2 linked regions of the Homo sapiens genome follow. Changing the gene in region 2 together with the main gene of any one other region gives a genetic interaction. Each region holds a gene or a part of one and is shown on either strand. Other genes may lie near its edges. The genes, in order: GBF1 and SZT2.

Region 1 (3,817 bases), on a different chromosome or scaffold from region 2:
GTTTTTTGTAGTTAAGCAAAGAGATCTCAAGAGGGTCATAAGCATGACAGGAAACCAGGTATAGGGCTGAGACTATTATAAGGCAGTAGCAGGCCAGTCCTACAAAGCAGATTCATAGGAGGCTGAGGTGCCAAACACAAGCTCCATGCCTGAGGCCATTCCAGGCTCACTCCCAGTACCACCCGCTAGACTGCACCAGCCCTGTGGTTGGTCACTGGACTCATGCTATGGGGCACTAAATGTACTCTCTGTCTCAGGCCATATTCATAATTGACAACTGTGGCCTTAATCCCTTGCATACCTGCCCACTCTCCAAGATGCATTCTGCTTACCTGAGCACTGATCTCTTCTCTCCGGAGAAGCCGAATGGCCAGGCGTAGCAACCCCACCACTGCCCGCTCCACAAGGAAGCAGAAATCTTGTGCCTGAACACAGAGGTGGTATAGATGGTCTCGAACAGTCTGCCACACACAGCCCACACGATCCCTGTGTAGACATAAAGGAATGAAGATAGTCTCAGCCAGAGGGGCCACTGGGCAACAGGTCCCCTAGGCCTTTCAGGACTCATTGGTATTATACCCTAAGTAGACAGGTATGATGAGTAAGCTTCTCCCCTGCTGCCTACAGTTCCCCAGAGCCCACTCAGCAAGATGGCTTCCATCCCTTTGGCACAAGCCCAGCATGGGGTCTGCCTAAAGACTACGCTCATCTTACCTGTTCTCCAACACAATCCTTAGCAGCATCTCTAGGCAGAAAGCAGCATCTTCCTCATCATATGTCTCTTCATCTGGTGTCACTGAGACCAGAGCCTGAAGGGGAACAGCAGCAGGAAAGTAGGCATGGAAAAGAAGCCAACCACTGGCCCTGCCCTGACAGAAATAATACTGTCCCTGTCACCCCTCCCAGATTCAGCCAGTTGTTCCATGTTTCCTTTCTTCATCCTTTACCTTCATGAGCTCCTGTAGTGACTCCAGCTGGAGGAACTTGCTTTCTGTGATCATTTTTTCTGGGTCACATTGCTAGAGAGGGCAAAAGAGAGAGGGGGTCTTTGACAAAGGCTGAAGAGAACAGAATGTCCCCAAGAGCCAGGGGGAGAGGGCAGAGTCAGCCCTGGTTACAAATCCTGGATGATTTATTCTTCAGTTCACCAAGTAGCATCTAATAGGAAGGTGTTTAGGCTTTCTCACCAGGGGTGGATGGGCAGTTACCTTTATACACTCTAAGGCCACTCTCTTGGCCTCTTGGTTTTCAGTGGATGGGCCCCGAACACTAGACTGCTCAGGACCACTCAGTGTTAGCCAGCTCACAAAGCTCAGCACTGTTGACTCTCCTCTGTAGAAAAAGGGCACATGGCCTGGTGAGCCCCAAAGTTCTGACTCTCCCTCCCCAAGCCCCTGAGCCTCTGGTCTGCTCTTACCGGTTTGATGGTGTCTCTTCCCGCTGTAGAGAGATCTTGCCATTGGGATCCACGAAATCTTCTACCTGGAAAAGTAAGTCAAAATAATTTCTTTCCATGTGTCCTTTGCATTTGTGCCCGCCTCCACCCACCAAAGTTCTCTGGATTTCCTCCTCTAGTCTTCTGCCCCTATGCTATTGTGCCAATTGGTGACTGGCAATGGCATCTACCAGCCTTCTTTTACAGCTATCCCCCAAGATCTGTGGTCTTACATTTGAGGCATTCCTGGTGAGCTGTGGCAGGCATCAGGCCCAACATTACTCTCAACCACTTACTTCTATGTACAGGTAGCATACAATGTTGCAGCTCTTGCCTTGTTATCGCTCACTAGTCTCCTACTAAGAATTACCTCTATCATAGCCTTGGGCAGTAGTTGGGCTCGGAAGAGCTGCAGCATGGCCTCCATGATATTCTTCCAGCCCTCCCGCAGGATGTCACCATGACGATGGGCCAAATGGAATACTGTCTTGGCTGCAATATGGGCTTTAGGGTTGCTTCCAAATACACTGGGCAGGTTCTCAATAGACTGGAAAAGAGGAAGAGAACAGACTTAAGGCCGAGCTAATGTCTGGAAAGGAAAATCTCTTAGGTCTCTGCCTATGATGGTTCCCTCAGGTCCTTTTGTTGGCTCTGCTTCAATCCCCCATAATACTGGTGGGAGTGGGTTAACCTAGTTAAGGCCTTCCCCACTCCTGTATCTCCTTTCCCATCCCCATTACATGAAGTAACACTAGTTTTATCCCAGAGTGTGCAAGACAGAAATGGCCTAAGCTCTGGTATATTCAAGTGGGGGCAGTGAGGGAAGACGCTGAGGGCAACCAGGTCTGTTGATAAGGGTAGATCCATGGCTAAAAGAGAGGTCCTCCTTTGGAGCTCCAAGTACACAGTTCCTGCACCTGCTCACCTCACTGCTGAGAGCTGTGAATTTGCATAGAGAGATGATGAGATTGTCAAACACATCGCTGAGGCCATAGTGGGCGGAGATCATGGCGCACTTCCTGTAATGTTACCCCCCATCCCAGAAACAGAGTCACTGGAAGGCCAAGCAGCCCTTCCAAGTCCCTGAGCTTGCATGGGGCTCTTCCCCAGTCAGTCCCAGGAAGAAACCTTTTAATTTTGTTTCTGTTTAAGACTGAGCCTACCCAAGCTTCAGCCTCCCTCCAAAAACTCAGGGGGAACCCCATTCTAATGAAGTAACAGTAGGAGTCAGAGAGGCATGGAGAAAACCATGTTAGCTCACAGAGCTAGTGGGAGGTGAAGACCAAGGCCAAAGCTGGGCTACCTGAAGCCTGAGATGGCTTTCTGGATGATTGTCTCCTCAAGGCTTTTGTCAAAGACATAAGAGAGAGCAGCAATAGTGGGGCCCCAGGTCATGGTGAAGAGGTCAAGATCATAGCTGGCAGTAGGCACACGCAGGAATATGCCCTCAGGGGTGGCACCTCGATGAAGCAGCACATTCCACACATAGTTCTCCCGAACCAAGCCTGTCTGCTCCTCAGGCATTACAATTTCCTCATTCCTGTCAGGAGGTAAGGGAAGGAGCAGTTGCACTGCTTTGAACCTGACTAGTTCCAAACCAAGACTAGGAGTTCATCCATACTAGCACTCTCCACTGATGAGAGGTCATCAGAACTGCAGCTCAGTGGTCTGCTTTCCACCCACCAGTGGGAGCAGACAGAAAGAAAGGAAGTGTCCCATAATCTCAAAGCCCTATCTGTAAGTGAGGCCTTTAGTTCTATAGTAAGATCACACATTCTTACTAGGTGTGATAAAATGAACAATTCTACCTTTTCTGATTTACAGTAAAAAACTAAGTGGCCCATTTCTGACCTGTAACCTGGGCCTCACACTCCAGTGCCCATCTTGGGTTCTCTACCAGCCAGCATCTTGTAATCTATACAGGAAAATGTACCTGTTTTAAGTTCAGAAAATGGGGCCATGATATCCTACTTAAGAGCAGCACTTTGGACCCTGGCTTAGAGTACTAGAGTCCCAATATCATTTGGGCTTCTTTAAGGAAGAAACAGTTGGCAGAGAGGGGGCTGCCCAACTAAGTCCTGAGGCTAAATCCAGGGCATGTGAGTCACTGCAGTCTGACATGACTCTAAAAACTGGGAAAGGAAGCAATGTGCTTCTTCTTAACAGAGATACTGCACTATTCTCTATGTATACTCACTTGATGGCATGGTACATGTCCTCCAGGATGTCTTGCTCAAAGTCCTTGCCTCCATTCACACCTTTCAGATTTTTGCGAAACTCCTAGAGACAGGCCAGTAAGTTTTTTCCCCTTGTGTCAACACTGAAGCCCCACCTAAGGAACTCCTGGGTTTTCAGTAAATAGGACTTAGGAAAAGGTAAGCG
Region 2 (3,817 bases):
TTAAAATCTGTTGTCTTGAAAATATCTAACCCACTTTTTGTTTTACCTTCTAAGGCCACACAGGGAGAATCTGACCCTCTGCCAAACGAGAGTCTATTAAACATGTGATGACAGCCCTGAGTCTTTACTTTTCTAAAACAAACATCTTTGGGTTCTTTAAGTGTGTCTCAAATGGCATGGTTTCAAGTTTCCTCACTATTTTATATCTTAGATTATGTGCCCATGAATGAATTCTGGCTGGTCTACTTTACAACTTAAAATGTGGGGACCAGAATGGAACATAATACTCAAATGAGGTCACAGATTCAGATTCTCCTAGGTTATACTTGCTCAGGAAACCTCCATGACTTTCTCACTTGTGCTGCTGTCCAAACACATCTCCCATTTTATCCTCATGCACCTGGCTTTTTTGGACACATACGATCATTCAATTAGTCCTGTCACTTGGATAAATTCAGCCTATTATTTTATGGTGAAGCTTAAGAGTGTTGTTTCTTCTTCTACTAAATCTCTCCAGTTTGATTTCCATGCTAACTTGTTCAGGGTGCCATCATGTCCTCATCGAACTCCAAAAAGAACAAAGGCAAGGTAAGCATGCATGCATTCACTCAACAAATTTATGAAAAGCCTGGTACATGCTAGGCACTGGGCTGGGTCCTAATGATACAATGAAAAGCAAACACATGCATTCCCTGCTCTCATAAAACATATTCTATAGTGAAGGACAAAAACATTGATCAAATAATCACTGTGACTATTGTATAATTACACACTGAGTAAGTGCTCCGAAGGATAAGAATGTGGTTCTACAAAAACAAGTAACAGCCACGTGCAGTGGCCCATGCCTGCAATTCCAGCACTTTGGAAGACCAAAGTGGGCGGATTACTTGAGCCTCAGGAGTTTGAGACTAGCCTGGGCAACATGGCAAAACCCTGTCTCTACAAAAAATTATGAAAATTAGCTGGGTGTAGTGTCATGTGGCTGTAGTCCCAGCTACTCAGGAGACTAAGGTGGGAGGGTCGCCTGAGCCCAGGGAGGTTGAGGCTTCAGTGAGCCATGATCATACCACTGCACTCCAGCCTGGATGACAGAGCAAGACCCTGCCCCACTCCCTGACCTCCCCCTCCTCCCAAAAAAGCAAGCAAGTAACAAAGTAACCTGTTCAGGCTAATACCTTAAGAGAAAGTGATGCTGAAGGTTGAGCAAGGTTTGTTAAGTGAGGAGAGAATGGGGGTAAACGAGACAGAGGGCACAGACTATTAGAAAGCTTTCTTCCAATTACCAGTTAGTAGGCCACTAAATTTTACTACTGTACAGCTTCCATTTTTTCCCACCTTTCCTTGAAGGTTATTTTGAATGATGGACTGACTCTCCAAAGGCACAATGAAGTCTAGCTCATCAATCAGTTCTTACAGAATCCACCTTCCTGAAATCAAGAACATTTGCTGAACATTTGCCTAGTCTTCTTGCAACATCCCCCTTTACATATGATCCTTCAAAGTCAACAACTATATTTTCTTTTTCTTTTCTTTTTTTTTTTTTTGAGATGGAGTTTCGCTCTCGTTGCCCAGGCTACAGTGCAATGGCACCATCTCGGCTCACCGCAACCTCCACCTCCTGGATTTAAAGCAATTCTCCTGCCTCAGCCTTCCGAGTAGCTGGGATTACAGGCATGCGCCACCACGCCCGGCTAATTTTGTATTTTTGGTAGAGACGAGGTTTCTCCATGCTGGTGAGGCTGGTCTCAAACTCCCGACATCAGGTGATCCACCCGCCTCAGCCTCCCAAAGTGTTGGGATTACAGGCATGAGCCACCGCGCCCAGCCCAACAACTATATTTTCAAAACATCATTTCTAAGTTCTCTTCACTTTCAAGATGTAATTTATCATAACTAGAAGACTTAATAATTTAAGCAGCTAGAATGGTGTTTTTCAAAGTGGGATCCAAGGACCAGCTGCATGAAAAATCACCTGAAGTGCTTATGAAAATACAGCGTTGAGTCCCAGGCACCACCCCAGACCAACTGAATTAAGAGTTGATGGGCTCCAGACTGGGTGCTGTGGCTCACACCTGTAGTCCCAGCTACTCAGGAGGCTGAGGCACAAGAATTGCTTGAACCTGAGAGGTGGAGGTTGCAGTGAGCCAAGATCACGCCACTGCACTCCAGCCTGGGCGACAGAGCAAGACTCCATCTCAAAAAAAAAAAAAAAAAAAAGAGTTGATGGGCTCCAGAATCTACATTCTAACAAGGTCTCCAAGTGATTCTTCCACATTAACATTTGAGAATCCCTGAATTAGTTCTCAGAGCATCCACACTCACATGGAGCTTCAAGTCCTCATATGAATCCTCCTTGAGTCTGAAGTTCATTACTCTCAGAGTAGTCTGGCAAGGAAGACAAAGTAGAGTTTCGGGGTCAGGGACCTGGATTCAAATCTGATTCTATCATTTGCTATATAGGTGACCTTGGACAAGTTACTTAATTTTTCCAAGCCTCGGTTTCTTTATTGATAGTATGTGGATAAGAATATCTTCATAGGGATGTCGTTGCAATTAAACAGGAGAGGAAGGCTATCATTCTTTGGAATATTTATTGAGGTCTACATACCATTTATACCAAGATGAATAAAACATTACCAGGCACTGTGCTGCATACCATGTATACCAGGAAGAATGAAGCATGGTCCATCTCATTAATTTGTTGCTTTGTCTTTTTGTGCCTGTCCCTTTGTGATTAAGGTCTGATTTGTTCAGCCTTTTCTAACCCTTGTGCTGTCTTTTGTTAACACATTCCCACAAAATAATGTGGATTATTTCCCCTCTTGAACTGGCTAAAATCTTCTTACCACTATACATCAAAGTCCTGAGCCTCTAGCATGGCCTCAAGCTGCATCTTCTCCAGCCTTATCTCTCACCAATCCCCACGCAGTTAAAAGCATGTATTCCAGTGTTAGAGCACTTAGGATCAAATGCTTGCTCTGCTGATTATTAACTATATAGTTTTGGCAGAGACTTACACTCTCTATGCCTCAGTTAGCTCATCTGTGAAACACAGATAATAAAAGTGCTTATTTTCAGATAATTTTTGAGTATCAGATGATACTCAGTAAGCATTCAGTAAGTGCTAGCTATTCTCATTGTCAAACTGCATCCACACAAGGAGTTGCTTCCTCTTAGTTCTCTGAAGGCTCCACTGGGCTCCTTCTCACCTGAAGATCTTCACTATTCCCTTTGCCTGCAATGCTCTCTGCCTCTTCTTTTAGAAAACTTCTACCTATTCTTCAGGCTTCAGCTTAAATGTCATTCTTCTGAGTCTTCCTATTCACAACCCCTTGCCTCCCCATTTCTTAACAAGGTAGGTTGAGAACCACTGTTAAACACCCTAATTCACTCCTTTACAGCACTTATTATCCTAATTCAATCCTTGTTTACTCCATAAAGATAGAGAGCATGTCTGTCTTACACGGCTCTGTATCCACCCTGATACTTAGCACAATTCTGACTCCTACCAGCACTCGTAAAATATTTCAAGTGTGTGATGAATGAATGATTTCCTAAATCTGACTATACCCAATCTTTCTCTCTTGGGATCCTAACAGCCTCTAAAAGTCAATAACTTTATTACACCCAGGGGCAGAACTCTTCAATCTCTTTACCTTCTGATAAAATTTTCAGAAATGCAAATCAGGGAGTTAAAAAATGCTTAACTTAGGCTGGGCACGGTGGCTCACGCCTGTAATCCCAGCACTTTGGGAAGCCGAGGCAGGCGGATCACGAGGACAGGAGATTGAGACTATCTGGCTAACACGGTGAAACC

Evidence for each region.
Region 1: changes in SZT2 (region 2) and GBF1 together harm fitness more than expected from each alone (negative genetic interaction), as found in Homo sapiens cells (one study listed by BioGRID).

The regions. Positions count from the first base shown.
Region 1 is NC_000010.11:102,367,376-102,371,192, reverse strand, and holds part of GBF1 (Golgi-specific brefeldin A-resistance guanine nucleotide exchange factor 1), read right to left. Parts: intron 3,716-3,817; coding exon 3,633-3,715; intron 2,976-3,632; coding exon 2,739-2,975; intron 2,455-2,738; coding exon 2,361-2,454; intron 1,983-2,360; coding exon 1,806-1,982; intron 1,483-1,805; coding exon 1,418-1,482; intron 1,333-1,417; coding exon 1,209-1,332; intron 1,020-1,208; coding exon 948-1,019; intron 810-947; coding exon 715-809; intron 487-714; coding exon 333-486; intron 1-332. UniProt on the Homo sapiens protein: Guanine-nucleotide exchange factor (GEF) for members of the Arf family of small GTPases involved in trafficking in the early secretory pathway; its GEF activity initiates the coating of nascent vesicles via the localized generation of activated ARFs through replacement of GDP with GTP.
Region 2 is NC_000001.11:43,392,607-43,396,423, reverse strand, and holds part of SZT2 (KICSTOR complex protein SZT2), read right to left. Parts: intron 1-3,817.